3 linked regions of the Homo sapiens genome follow. The protein of the gene in region 1 interacts with the protein of each later gene in a biochemical or structural test. Each region holds a gene or a part of one and is shown in the gene's direction. Other genes may lie near its edges. The genes, in order: PXN, ITGA4 and PTPRH.

Region 1 (3,750 bases):
GGGGTCTTCCTCATTGTGCTGTCTGGATCCAACTCAGAGGCCTCATTTGGGGTTATTAATTGGGGGAGCAGGCAGGGGATCTCCTTCCTCCAGTCCAGTAGGTCCTGGGCCAGGGTTTGTACTGAGGCTGGGACAAACCAGGAGCAAGGTAGACATGTCCCCCAGTCCAGCCCTGTGCAGCGGCCCTGGGCCATTCCTATTTGGGAGGAGAGTGTGTGAGAACTAAATGAGATAATGCAAGTATTTAGCAGACTCAACAGAAATGGGCAGTGGTTTCCAAAACCACTGCATTCTGGGGGCCCCACAGGGGTTATTAATGATTCAACAAGGGCTCTCTGACCAAATGAGTTTGGGAAACACTGTTCCCTGCAGGACTTCTCAGAGCCTTTTCTTTTCTTTTCTTTTTTTGAGACGGAGTCTCACTCTGTTGCCCAGACTGGTGTGCAGTGGCACGATCTTGGCTGACTGCAACCTCTGCCTGCTGAGTTCCAGTGATTCTCCCGCCTCAGCCTCCCAAGTAGCTGAGATTACAGGCACACGCCCCCATGCCTGGCTAATTTTTTGTATTTTCAGTAGAGACGGGGTTTCACCATGTTGGCCAAGCTGGTCTTGAACTCCTGACCTCAGGTGATCCGCCTCCCTTGGCCTCCCAAAGTGCTGGGATTACAAGTGTGAGCCACCTCACCCGGCCCCTCTCAGAGCCTTTTCTACCTATATGTGATGTGAATCTCCAATGAGAATCTAGGAGGCAGAGTTTGACTACAGACCAGTGTCACACCTGTGTTTCTGGGAACACTGTTACAGCCACCTGGCTAAGTGCTCAGGAGTCAGACCTGTGTATGAATCCAGGCTGTGACCTCAGTAGCTGCATGACCCTGGGCAAGTTACTTCACCTGTGTGCTTCAGTTGCCTCCCCTGTTGGGAGAACTAAATAATCCCAGCCCTGTGGGAGGCCGAGGTGGGAGGATTGCAGGAGGCCACATTTGACCAGCATGGGCAATATAGTGAGACCCCCATCTCTACAAAAAAAATTTATTTAATAAAATAAAAATGAAAAATGAGCGTTTAGGACAACACGGCACATGGGAAACGCCTAGCAAGTAGGAGTCACTCCGAGCGTGCCGACTATGCCCACCTCGGCCCCATCACACAGGGTGCAGCTCTAGCCCGAGGGGCAGCTCCCTGAGCCCCTCTCTCCGCCTGGCAGGAATGCTTCACGCCATTCGTGAACGGCAGCTTCTTCGAGCACGACGGGCAGCCCTACTGTGAGGTGCACTACCACGAGCGGCGCGGCTCGCTGTGTTCTGGCTGCCAGAAGCCCATCACCGGCCGCTGCATCACCGCCATGGCCAAGAAGTTCCACCCCGAGCACTTCGTCTGTGCCTTCTGCCTCAAGCAGCTCAACAAGGGCACCTTCAAGGAGCAGAACGACAAGCCTTACTGTCAGAACTGCTTCCTCAAGCTCTTCTGCTAGGTGCCCTGCCCCTGTCTCTGCCCCCCTTCCCCAGCCAGCATCCCCAACTGCGACTGTGACCTAGAGACTTCACCCGGGGGTGAAGGGGTAAACCCGACTGAAACTGGAACCCTTGTCCTCCGCTGGTGCGGGATGGACAGAGGGCCGTGAGGGGTCCCCCTGCTTGTCTTCACCCCTGCCAGAGCCTCTGGGCCCCCTCCTCCCTCCTGTAGCTCTCCCTAGGCTGCCCACTCTCCATCCTCCCCAGGGGTAGAGGCTGGGGGCTCCACCCCAGCCCATGTACGTCCCCACGAACTGGCCTGGCCAGCACCCCACACTGGAGCCATCTCTTCCTCATATTTCAGCAGTGCAGCCGGGGGGCAGGGAAGGGCAGGCAGGGTCTGTTGGGGTCTCTTTTTATCCTTATTCCTCCCCCGACCTAATTGTCTTTGTTCTGTGATTATTGGGGGACACCCGGCTCCCTCCAGACAATGCCAGCATAAATCCATCCATCCAAAGGCAGAGAACCAAAGGGGCCATGGAAGGTTCTCTGTGCTCCTCCTACCCTTCCAGTGCCCTAGGCCTGGCGACTGCCCCTGCCTTTTAGACCCGCCCTCCCCTTTTATACCTGCTCTTGTTCTACTGAGAAAAGCCTCTCCAGCAATAATGTTTTCTAGTCACTTCCTCCGTCTCCGGGACGGCGTGCCTGGACACTGTACCGACTTTGATAGATTTCTACACTGAGGTTTGAATTCATATCGCCTGAGTTGCTTTTACTTCTCTATACAAAATGATTTTGAAGAGATTTTAAAGACGTTCCCTTTTGTATTCTCTTCCTCATCCACCGCCACTGGGCCTGTCACTGATGGTGGCTCTGGTGTGAAGTTTGCTTTGTACTGAGGGTTGGGGTGGGGAAGCAATTTGTATTTTATTGTTTCTTAGCACAAGCAGGTGAACTGGGAGCAGCTCTGTGACTCCCCCTCTTTCACTTCATAGCTCACCAGGACTGTTTTATAAACTGCTGTATTTGGAAACCCCTTCTTTACTTCCCAGGCCAGCAAGCTCTTCACTGAAACTGGTTGAAGGGTGTTGCACCCTTTTGGGCCTAGAATTCTGAACTTTATCTGTTCTGTTTCTGTGGGAGGAGAAGGGGAAGTATGTTTTGGGGGGCTGCTTCCTGTCTGAGTAAGCCCTCAGGAGCCTCTGCTCCCCTGTGAACCCACTGAACCTTCTGAGCCCCCACTGCTTCTATGGGGCTCTCTCTTCTGCCTTCTCAGGAAAGCTGGTGTCTGATTTTGGCCATCAGGACTCTGACGTCTCTTTGGTCTTGTTGATTTCCTCTGGGCATATCCCTTCCCCAGATCTGCTCCTCCCCTTTCACAGGTGGGATCGGCACTCAGGGGGTCTGGAAAGAAGGTCATAAGGGAGCATGATAGGATTTGGGGCAGAGGGACAGGCTCCTCTGGGGAAACCCCCCAGAGCTCTTTACCAAGGATGAAAGAGGAGCCAGGCCTTGGGCTCCTGATGAGGAGAAAGGGGCCCCACCGGGGTCTAATGGTGACAGTCCAAACCACTCCACTGGCCTCCTGGCAGAAGCCGAGTGTGCTGGGGTCTCCGAAGAGGGTCCCTCCTTTTTGGGGGAAGGTCAGCCCAGCCCCTCCAAAGGTCTGATGTCTCCACTTTCACCCGCAGGCCTTACCGCTCTGTTTATAGTGACCCACCCTAGATCTTCCCCAAGAGGGACTGGGGTTTCTGGGGTCCATTCTCTGAGTCAGTGGTTATTTGAAAATTTGATTTTGATTTTATTTTTTCTCTGTAAACTTCCAAGCTGGCTTTTCCCATTTCAATTCCTGTGATTTATGCCAATAAAGTTTGCCCATGATTTTCACCTGTGCTAGTGCTATTTCTTGGTGGTCTGAACCTCATGGTCCCAGCAGAGACCAAACCCACCCCAGATGCAGCTGGATCACCAGATGGAGGGTAAATTGTGGATGTTTCCTTTCTTGAGGTCAAAATCCCTGGGGCTGGGGTCCGTGGTCCTTGCCTGTGGTCACAGGTCCTCCCCGTGGGCTTTGCTCCTGCCTGGGCAGTTGGTGAGGACAGGCTGGGGAGCAGCGGGATGGGGCCCTGTGGGGCAGGGCCTGCCCAGGGTGTGATCACCTGGGTTTACCAAGGGCATCCTCACTCACGGGCTTGTGGGTGGCTTTCCACTCATTTAGAAGTAGGGAAAGAGGCTCTAGGACAAGAACCTACATGTACAAGGCAATCTGAGTGAGGGCAGAGCCATGATGCGGACC
Region 2 (3,750 bases), on another chromosome or scaffold:
ACACATATTTATATCATATGTCTATTTATCTCAAACATATAAATAGAAAATAGTTTTCCTAGAAAAGCAAATACTTCTGGGATGATATTCTTTTCAATAACCATCCTTAAACATATGTTACAAACTTTTTATTTCCTTCCTGTCCAAAACAGTTGTTTCATTTTTCCCATTAGGAAGAGAAGCAAATAAACTGTGAAGTCACAGATAACTCTGGCGTGGTACAACTTGACTGCAGTATTGGCTATATATATGTAGATCATCTCTCAAGGGTAAGTGTTTCATATTTATGGCTTTTGTTCACTATCATGAATATTTTTTTCTATTCTTCCCTATCTTTAGGTTGCATAGAAAATATTATAAATATTTTAGCTTGGGGTAGGTAGCTGAGTGATGAAATAAAACTGGTTCTTGAAATCTTTGAGCTTTGTGTTTATATTCTTGGCAATGTTTGCTGTTTTAAAGGGGGTGGCATGTTTACATCGAAATGGGCATGTGCATGTGTCAATCAGAATTCTGCTCCCCCTACACACCCTTCCCGAAAACCCCCACCCCCACCGCAGGTGGTCCTGTCTGCCAGGCATGTTACCTCTGCTATACAAAAAGGTGTTTTTGGCAAGAGTCTCCACTCAAGTTGTGAAAGCATTTCTAATTTTGTCTAGACTTGCCTGCGTTCACATTCAGAGACGTCTTTGTCTCTGAATGTTACGTGTGGATATGTGTGTACTTTAAAATAGCCACAAACCCAACAACTTCCCTGAATCTTATTGCCAAGGGAGGAGTAGCTGATGCCTTTACAATGGTTCAATTCTACATTCCATAGAACATAAACTTTTAAGAAAAAAATTCAGATTATAAAAAATGTACTTAAGATTTTTTTTAATGGGCTTTCCTGGTCTGTGTTTTACAGATAGATATTAGCTTTCTCCTGGATGTGAGCTCACTCAGCAGAGCGGAAGAGGACCTCAGTATCACAGTGCATGCTACCTGGTATAATTTATTGTTAATAAAATGAACTAGAAATATACCCCCATATTCTGAGGGGGGGGAATTAGGAGAACCGTAAAACTGTGTTCCATTAATTGTAAGAGAAAACTTCTCTTACGTGGTATGCTTTTAAAAGAACCAAACAACATAGTTAAATGGGAGTTACTGGCAATGTTTTAGCTCTTGAGCTATGTTAAGTATTTATTAGATTAGATTAGAGTAGACATGATGTGTCACGAATCAAACTGTGTATTTGAAATCAAAAACAGAATAAACAGTTTACAAGTAATAACTCTACAAGATTTAAAAGTGAGGGTAATGACTTCCATAGATATGTCTCCTAGAGTAAATAGGAAATCGTTAATGACTATTTCATGAGTGAAGTTTCAATATATTTTTTAAAATTCAGAATAAACGTCAAGATGGACTTCATTTTACCTAACACAACAACTTGGTCACCCTCTCATCCTAAAAATCTCTATAAGTAAAACTGATTATAAAGATACGTTAAGGCAGTACATGACTTGCTATACAGTTTAAAAAATTATATGATTGATGTGCTTTCTTTGATCATTAAGTCTTGCAAAAATACTTCTTCAACCTAAAGAGAGTAATAGATTTGTTTCTAAACTACCTATTTATTCTGGTTTTTGTACCACCTAGAACATAAATGTTAAAAAATCTTTTAATCTAATAAATGTAACTATTTGTTAAAAAAAAAAAAATTCCTCTATCTAGCATTAGAAGCAAATGATAACAGTTTAAATAATGAGAGAAATTTTCTGCCAACCTTGTCCTAAAAAATTTTTACTACCATATCTACTTTTATCCCCACTCCTCAAAAAGCATTTAAGCAAACCTCTGAGTATATTAGGTATACAGGGTATGTAATTAGTTCTCTCTGAAGATTTTTCTGCTTGGTGAATTCTAACAGGGTGTTTTCTGTTTGTATAGTGAAAATGAAGAGGAAATGGACAATCTAAAGCACAGCAGAGTGACTGTAGCAATACCTTTAAAATATGAGGTTAAGCTGACTGTTCATGGGTAAGTAGACATAAAGGCTTCCTTTCAAATTTAGAGCTGATTTACAGTTTCCTTGCTTCTTACATTAATGAAAAAACTGTATTCTAGAATTTTTTTAAAATAAAAAGGATACTCTATCTTTTAATAATTACCTCATTGTTATAGTCCCTTACTTAGCTGTCCATTATAATAATCCACTCTATAATCATCACTGATACTACATCAAACTAGTACCCAGCTGGAGGAGATTTCTTACTGTGAGAGCCCCAACAAGCTAGCAAGGCCACACTGAGCCTTTCAGCTGTGCACTGTGTAATCCTAATCTGGAATTAGGCAGTATGCAGTCTGCATAATCATACTTAATGCCCATGTCAAGTGTGAAGTTCAGAGAAGTGTGAACTTAGTCAAATCACTATTCTGCAGACCCGTATCTACACATGTGGCAAATGGATTGAGATGTGAGAGATCTGGCTGCAAGGTGTCCCTTGTCCACTTTTTATACCTATGGGATCACCAGATTCCTCAACCACAGTATCAGAATTCATTGCTTCCTCATGATTTTAATGATTGAGTGGATCCCCCTCTCATTCAAGAAGGAGATGTGTGGAGAAAGAATAAAAGGGGGCTTACGGAAACCTTCAGTAATTCCACTAGAACTTATTCATGGTGTTAGTCCTTAAAACTACATTTTTATGCAGTAGAAGATATGAGTTACAGAACAAATAGACAGATGAGCCTTTCCTGTTGCTCTAAATCTAAACCATCCCGCAGTCATCTTATCCACTTAGAAAGGTGATATACAGTCATGTAAATGTAAAATGTCAGTGTCTGATGGAATTGAGTATCAAGTTTGAGATAAAGCAAACGGGTGAAAAAAGGCCATTCACAGGAGAGTAAGACCTAGAGAATCACGAGTAAGCAAATAAAAAGTTCATTGCGTGTTTCCTGGTTTTCAGTGTTTATCTTGCCACTCCTCCTGGCTTATGATGAGTGTCTTCCTATTTTTCTGTTATTCACATCTCATTATTTTGAACAAGGTATGTTCACCTGTTAAACTGCCTAAATCTATGCTGGTTACTTTCCTGTTTCATGAGTTTCTAATTTGGTATTACCTAATATTAGCTGCCAAATGTGAGCACCTTATGGAGTAGAGATCTCCCTAGAAACATATTTCTTAGAGTTTATTGCAGATAAAAATGTCAAATCACAGGCCTTTAAAAGAGAGTGACAGCCTTGTATTGTAACAAAAAATTTATCATACTTAATAATGTTAGACTTGTTCCCCAGATTTGGGGTTCATTATAAGTAGCCAGCAGGGATCATGAGATGGGAAGAAATAATTCAAAAATGGGTAACATAAATTGAGGTATGAGAACCTTAGGAAAAAACTAAGAAGTTATCCCACATTACATTTGCCAAATTTACATGAATCACTTAAGGGCTGAAAGAGAAGGAATGGTCAGTAGAATGAAAAAGGTGTAGTGTCATGGAAAGCAAGAAAAGAATATCGGTGAGGGACAGATATTGTCACCCAGGTCAGAGCACATGGCCTTTTTTTTTTTTTTTTTTTTTTTTTTTTTTTTAAGAGTCTCGCTCTATTGCCCATGCTGGAGGGCAGCGGTGTGACCTCAGCTCACTGCAACCTCTGCTTCTCGGGTTCAAGCGATTCTCCTGCCTCAGCCTCCCGAGTAGCTGGTACTACAGGCACACGCCACCACGCCCAGCTAATTTTTTTTTGTATTT
Region 3 (3,750 bases), on another chromosome or scaffold:
TTTTGACTCCCCCAAAACTTAACTACTAATAGCCTACTCTTGATTGGAAGCCTTACCAATAACATAAACAACATACATTTCATCTGTAATATGTACTACATACTGTATTCTTTTTGTTTGTTTGTTTGTTTTTGAGACAGAGTCTTGCTCTGTTACCCAGGCTGGAGTGCAGTAGTGTGATCTGGGCTCACTGCAAGCTCCACCTCCCGGGTTCACGCCATTCTCCTGCCTCAGCCTCCCGAGTAGCTGGGACTACAGGCGCCCACCACCACGCCCTGCTAATTTTTTGTATTTTTAGTGGAGATGGGGTTTCACCGTGTTAACCAGGATGGTCTCGATCTCCTGACCTCGTGATGTGCCCATCTCCGCCTCCCAAAGTGCTGGGATTACAGGCGTAAGCCACCGCGCCCGGCCGTACTATATGCTGTATTCTTATAATCAAGTAGCTAAAGAAAAAAATGTTACTAAGAATATCCTAAGGAAGAGAAAATGTACTCGCTATTTATTAAGTAGATCATCATAAAGGTCTTCCTCCTTGTAGTCTTCGCGTTGAGTAGGCGGAGGAGGAGGAGGAGGTAGGAGAGGGGCTGGTCTTGCTGTCTCAGGGGTGGAGGAAAATCCATGGGTAAGCGCGTAAGTATAACTGGACCGACGCAATTCACACCGTGTGATGTTCGGGGGTCAGCTGTCTTTGGACCAGGCTCCTGGGGAAGAGGAAAGGCTGGGCAGGGTTGGAGACAGATGAGCAGCTCAGACCTGCGCTCTGAGGGTTCCCGATGCCTCCTCCCCACAGGGGTCATTGCCGGAGCCTTTGTGGGCATCCTCCTGTTTCTCATCCTCGTGGGCCTGCTGATTTTCTTCCTGAAGAGGAGGTGAGACTCAGCACAGGGCTGACCGCCTGGAGGGTGGGGGCTGGAGAAGAAGGAGGAGGACCGCTGGTTGCAGCCTCACCCCCTGAGCCTCTCATCCTAACGTCCTTTTCCCAGGAATAAGAAGAAGCAGCAGAAACCAGAACTCAGGGATCTGGTCTTTAGGTGAGCAGAAGGTCTGGGGGGTGCATTGGAAAGAATCTGGTCAAATCAAGGGGTGTTTGCTGGCTGCCAGCTAGGTCAGAGGGTGGATCAATGCATTTACCCACAAAGGTCTCAGAAGGGGCCCATGCCTCTGCGACAGGGACCACGGCCCTTCCATCGTGACTCACTCCCCAAGCAGCCTGGGCCAGCGAATTCAGTTCTGGTCTCAACTCCCGGACATTCATTCATTCAGCAGATATCAGCTGAGCACCAGCATGTATCAGGCACTGTTCCAGGTGCCAAACAAACAGCAAATGAAACCAAGATTCTTGCCCGCCAGGGGCTTATATTCTAGTACAGGAGATATCAATAAACAAGATTGCTGGGTGCGGTGGCTCATGCCTGTAATCCCAGCACTTTGGGAAGCTGAGGCAGGCAGACCACAAGGTCAGGAGATCAAGACCATCCTGGCTAACGTGGTGAAACCCTGTCTCCACTAAAAAATACAAAAAATTAGCCAGGCTTGGTGGCGGGCACCTATAGTCCCAGCTACTTGGGAGGCTGAGGCAGGAGAATGGCGTGAACCTGGGAGGTAGAGCTTGCAGTGAGTTGAGATCACGCCACTGCACTGCAGCCTGGGTGACAGATCGAGACTCCGTCTCAAAAAAATAATAGTAATAAAAAATTAAAAAAGATCATAAAAAATATGATATAAACTTTCAGACAGGGCCAGGCATGGTGGCTCACGCCTGTAATCCCAGCTACGCAGGTGGCTGGGGCAGGAGAATCACTTGAACCCGGGAGCAGAGGTTGCAGTGAGCTGAGATTGCACCATTGCACTCCAGCCTGGGCAACAGAGTGAGACTCTGTCTCAAAAAAAAATTATATATATATATAATTTATAATATATATAATATATAATATATAAATTTATAATATATAATATATTATATGTTATATATATAATATATTATATATTATATATATTATACAATATAAAATATACATTATATATAATATAATATATAAATTATATAATATATAATATATAAATTTATAATATATAAAATATATAAATAAACTTGGAGACAAGGCAAAAGGAGGGGATAGGAAGGGTAGAGGAATATTGTGATATTCTTTTTTTTTTTTTTTGAGGTGGAGTCTTGCTCTGTCACCCAGGCTGAAGTGCAGTGGCATGATCTCGGCTCACCGCAACCTCCGCCTCCCGGGTTCAAGCAATTCTACTGCCTCAGCCTCCCGAGTAGCTGGGAATACAGGCATGCACCACCACGCCCAGCTAATTTTTGTATTTTTTAGTAGAGACAGTGTTTCACTATGTTGGCCAGGCTGGTCTTGAACTCCTGACCTTGTGATCCACCTGCCTCGGCCTCCCAGAGTGCTGGGATTACCGGCGTGAGCCACAGCCCCTGGCCTATTTTGATATTCTTCTAATGTGAAAATTAGAATAAATTAGAGAGAAAATCAGATGAATTATTTTATTTTATTTTATTTTATTTATTAATTTGTCAAGACAGGGTCTCACTCTGTGGCCCAGGCTGGAGTGCAGTGGCGCAATCATAGCTCACTGCAGCCTCGACCTCCTGGGCTCAAGTGACCCTCCCATCTCAGCCTCCCCAGTAGCTGGGACCACAGGCACGCACCACAATGCCTGGCTAATTTTTTAATTTTTTGTAGAGATGGAGGTCGGGGGGGTGGTCTTACCAGGTTGCCCAGGCTGGTCTTGAACTTCTGGCCCCAAGCAGCCCTTCCACCTCGGCCTCCCAAAGTGTTTGCATCACAGGCGTGAGCCGCTGCACCCAGCAGGAATATTTTCGGCAGGATATTCAAGGAAAGCTTTGCTAACAAGATGACTAAGAGGAAGTCATCTGAGTACAGGCCTACGCAAGTGGGAGAGGAGCCGAGCATGCATCTGGGAAAGGCGCTCCCAGGACAGGGATGGGCGCGTGGAGGGCCTGAGGCAACAGCACACGTGAGGTTCAGAGAACATCGTGCGTCTCCGACTGAGCAGAGTGAGGAAGGGGAGGGCAGTGGGAAGTGAGGTCAGAGAGACGTCAGTGGGGCCACAGCAGGCACAGGCCTGTAGTTGAAAGTTAGGACTTTGGATTTATTGTGAGCTGAGAGTTCTTGGGAGATTTTGAATAGGCTAGTGACACAGTCTAACATGTTTAGGAAGAAGTCTAACATGTGGAAGAGATTTGTAATAATCCAGACAAGAGGCCAGGCGTGGTGGCTCACGCCTGTAATCCCAGCACTTTGGGAGGCCGAGGCGGGAGGATCACTTGAGGTCAGGAGTTCGAGACCAGCCTGATCAACATGGCAAAACCCCGTTTCTACTAAAAATACAAAAATTAGCCGGGCATGGTGGCTGGCACCTGTAATCCCAGCTACGCAGGAGGCAGAGGCAGGAGAATCACTTGAGCTCCAGAGGCTGAGGTTGCAGTGAGCTGAGATCACACCACTGCACTCCAACCTGGGCGACAGGATGAGACTCTTTCTCGGAAAAGGAAAAGAAAAAGAAAGAAAGTGAAACTACAGGAATGGGCCAAACCCTGTAAGAAGTGTGCGTCCAGCAAGAAAAGTGGCTTGGGGTTGGACACTGGGGAACAGTTACCTTTTAAGACGGACAGAGGAGGAGGGGCCTGCCCAGGAAATGAACAAGCAGCAGCTGGGTAGGTGGGGGCCAAGCCAGGGCTGGGTGTTCCGGAACAGTGCAGAT

The links.
Region 2: the proteins of PXN (region 1) and ITGA4 form a complex in vitro, tested with the Homo sapiens proteins (2 studies listed by BioGRID).
Region 3: the proteins of PXN (region 1) and PTPRH form a complex in vitro, tested with the Homo sapiens proteins (one study listed by BioGRID).

Annotation. Positions count from the first base shown.
Region 1 is NC_000012.12:120,210,038-120,213,787, reverse strand, and holds the end of PXN (paxillin), read left to right. Parts: intron 1-959; exon of another isoform or gene 960-1,153; coding exon of another isoform or gene 1,154-1,186; exon of another isoform or gene 1,187-1,207; coding exon 1,208-1,474; 3' UTR 1,475-3,341; downstream 3,342-3,750. UniProt on the Homo sapiens protein: Cytoskeletal protein involved in actin-membrane attachment at sites of cell adhesion to the extracellular matrix (focal adhesion). Recruits other proteins such as TRIM15 to focal adhesion.
Region 2 is NC_000002.12:181,523,264-181,527,013, forward strand, and holds part of ITGA4 (integrin alpha-4 isoform 1 preproprotein), read left to right. Parts: intron 1-173; coding exon 174-269; intron 270-907; coding exon 908-987; intron 988-1,938; coding exon 1,939-2,028; intron 2,029-3,750. UniProt on the Homo sapiens protein: Integrins alpha-4/beta-1 (VLA-4) and alpha-4/beta-7 are receptors for fibronectin. They recognize one or more domains within the alternatively spliced CS-1 and CS-5 regions of fibronectin. They are also receptors for VCAM1.
Region 3 is NC_000019.10:55,188,785-55,192,534, reverse strand, and holds part of PTPRH (receptor-type tyrosine-protein phosphatase H isoform 1 precursor), read left to right. Parts: intron 1-793; coding exon 794-872; intron 873-986; coding exon 987-1,034; intron 1,035-3,750. UniProt on the Homo sapiens protein: Protein phosphatase that may contribute to contact inhibition of cell growth and motility by mediating the dephosphorylation of focal adhesion-associated substrates and thus negatively regulating integrin-promoted signaling processes.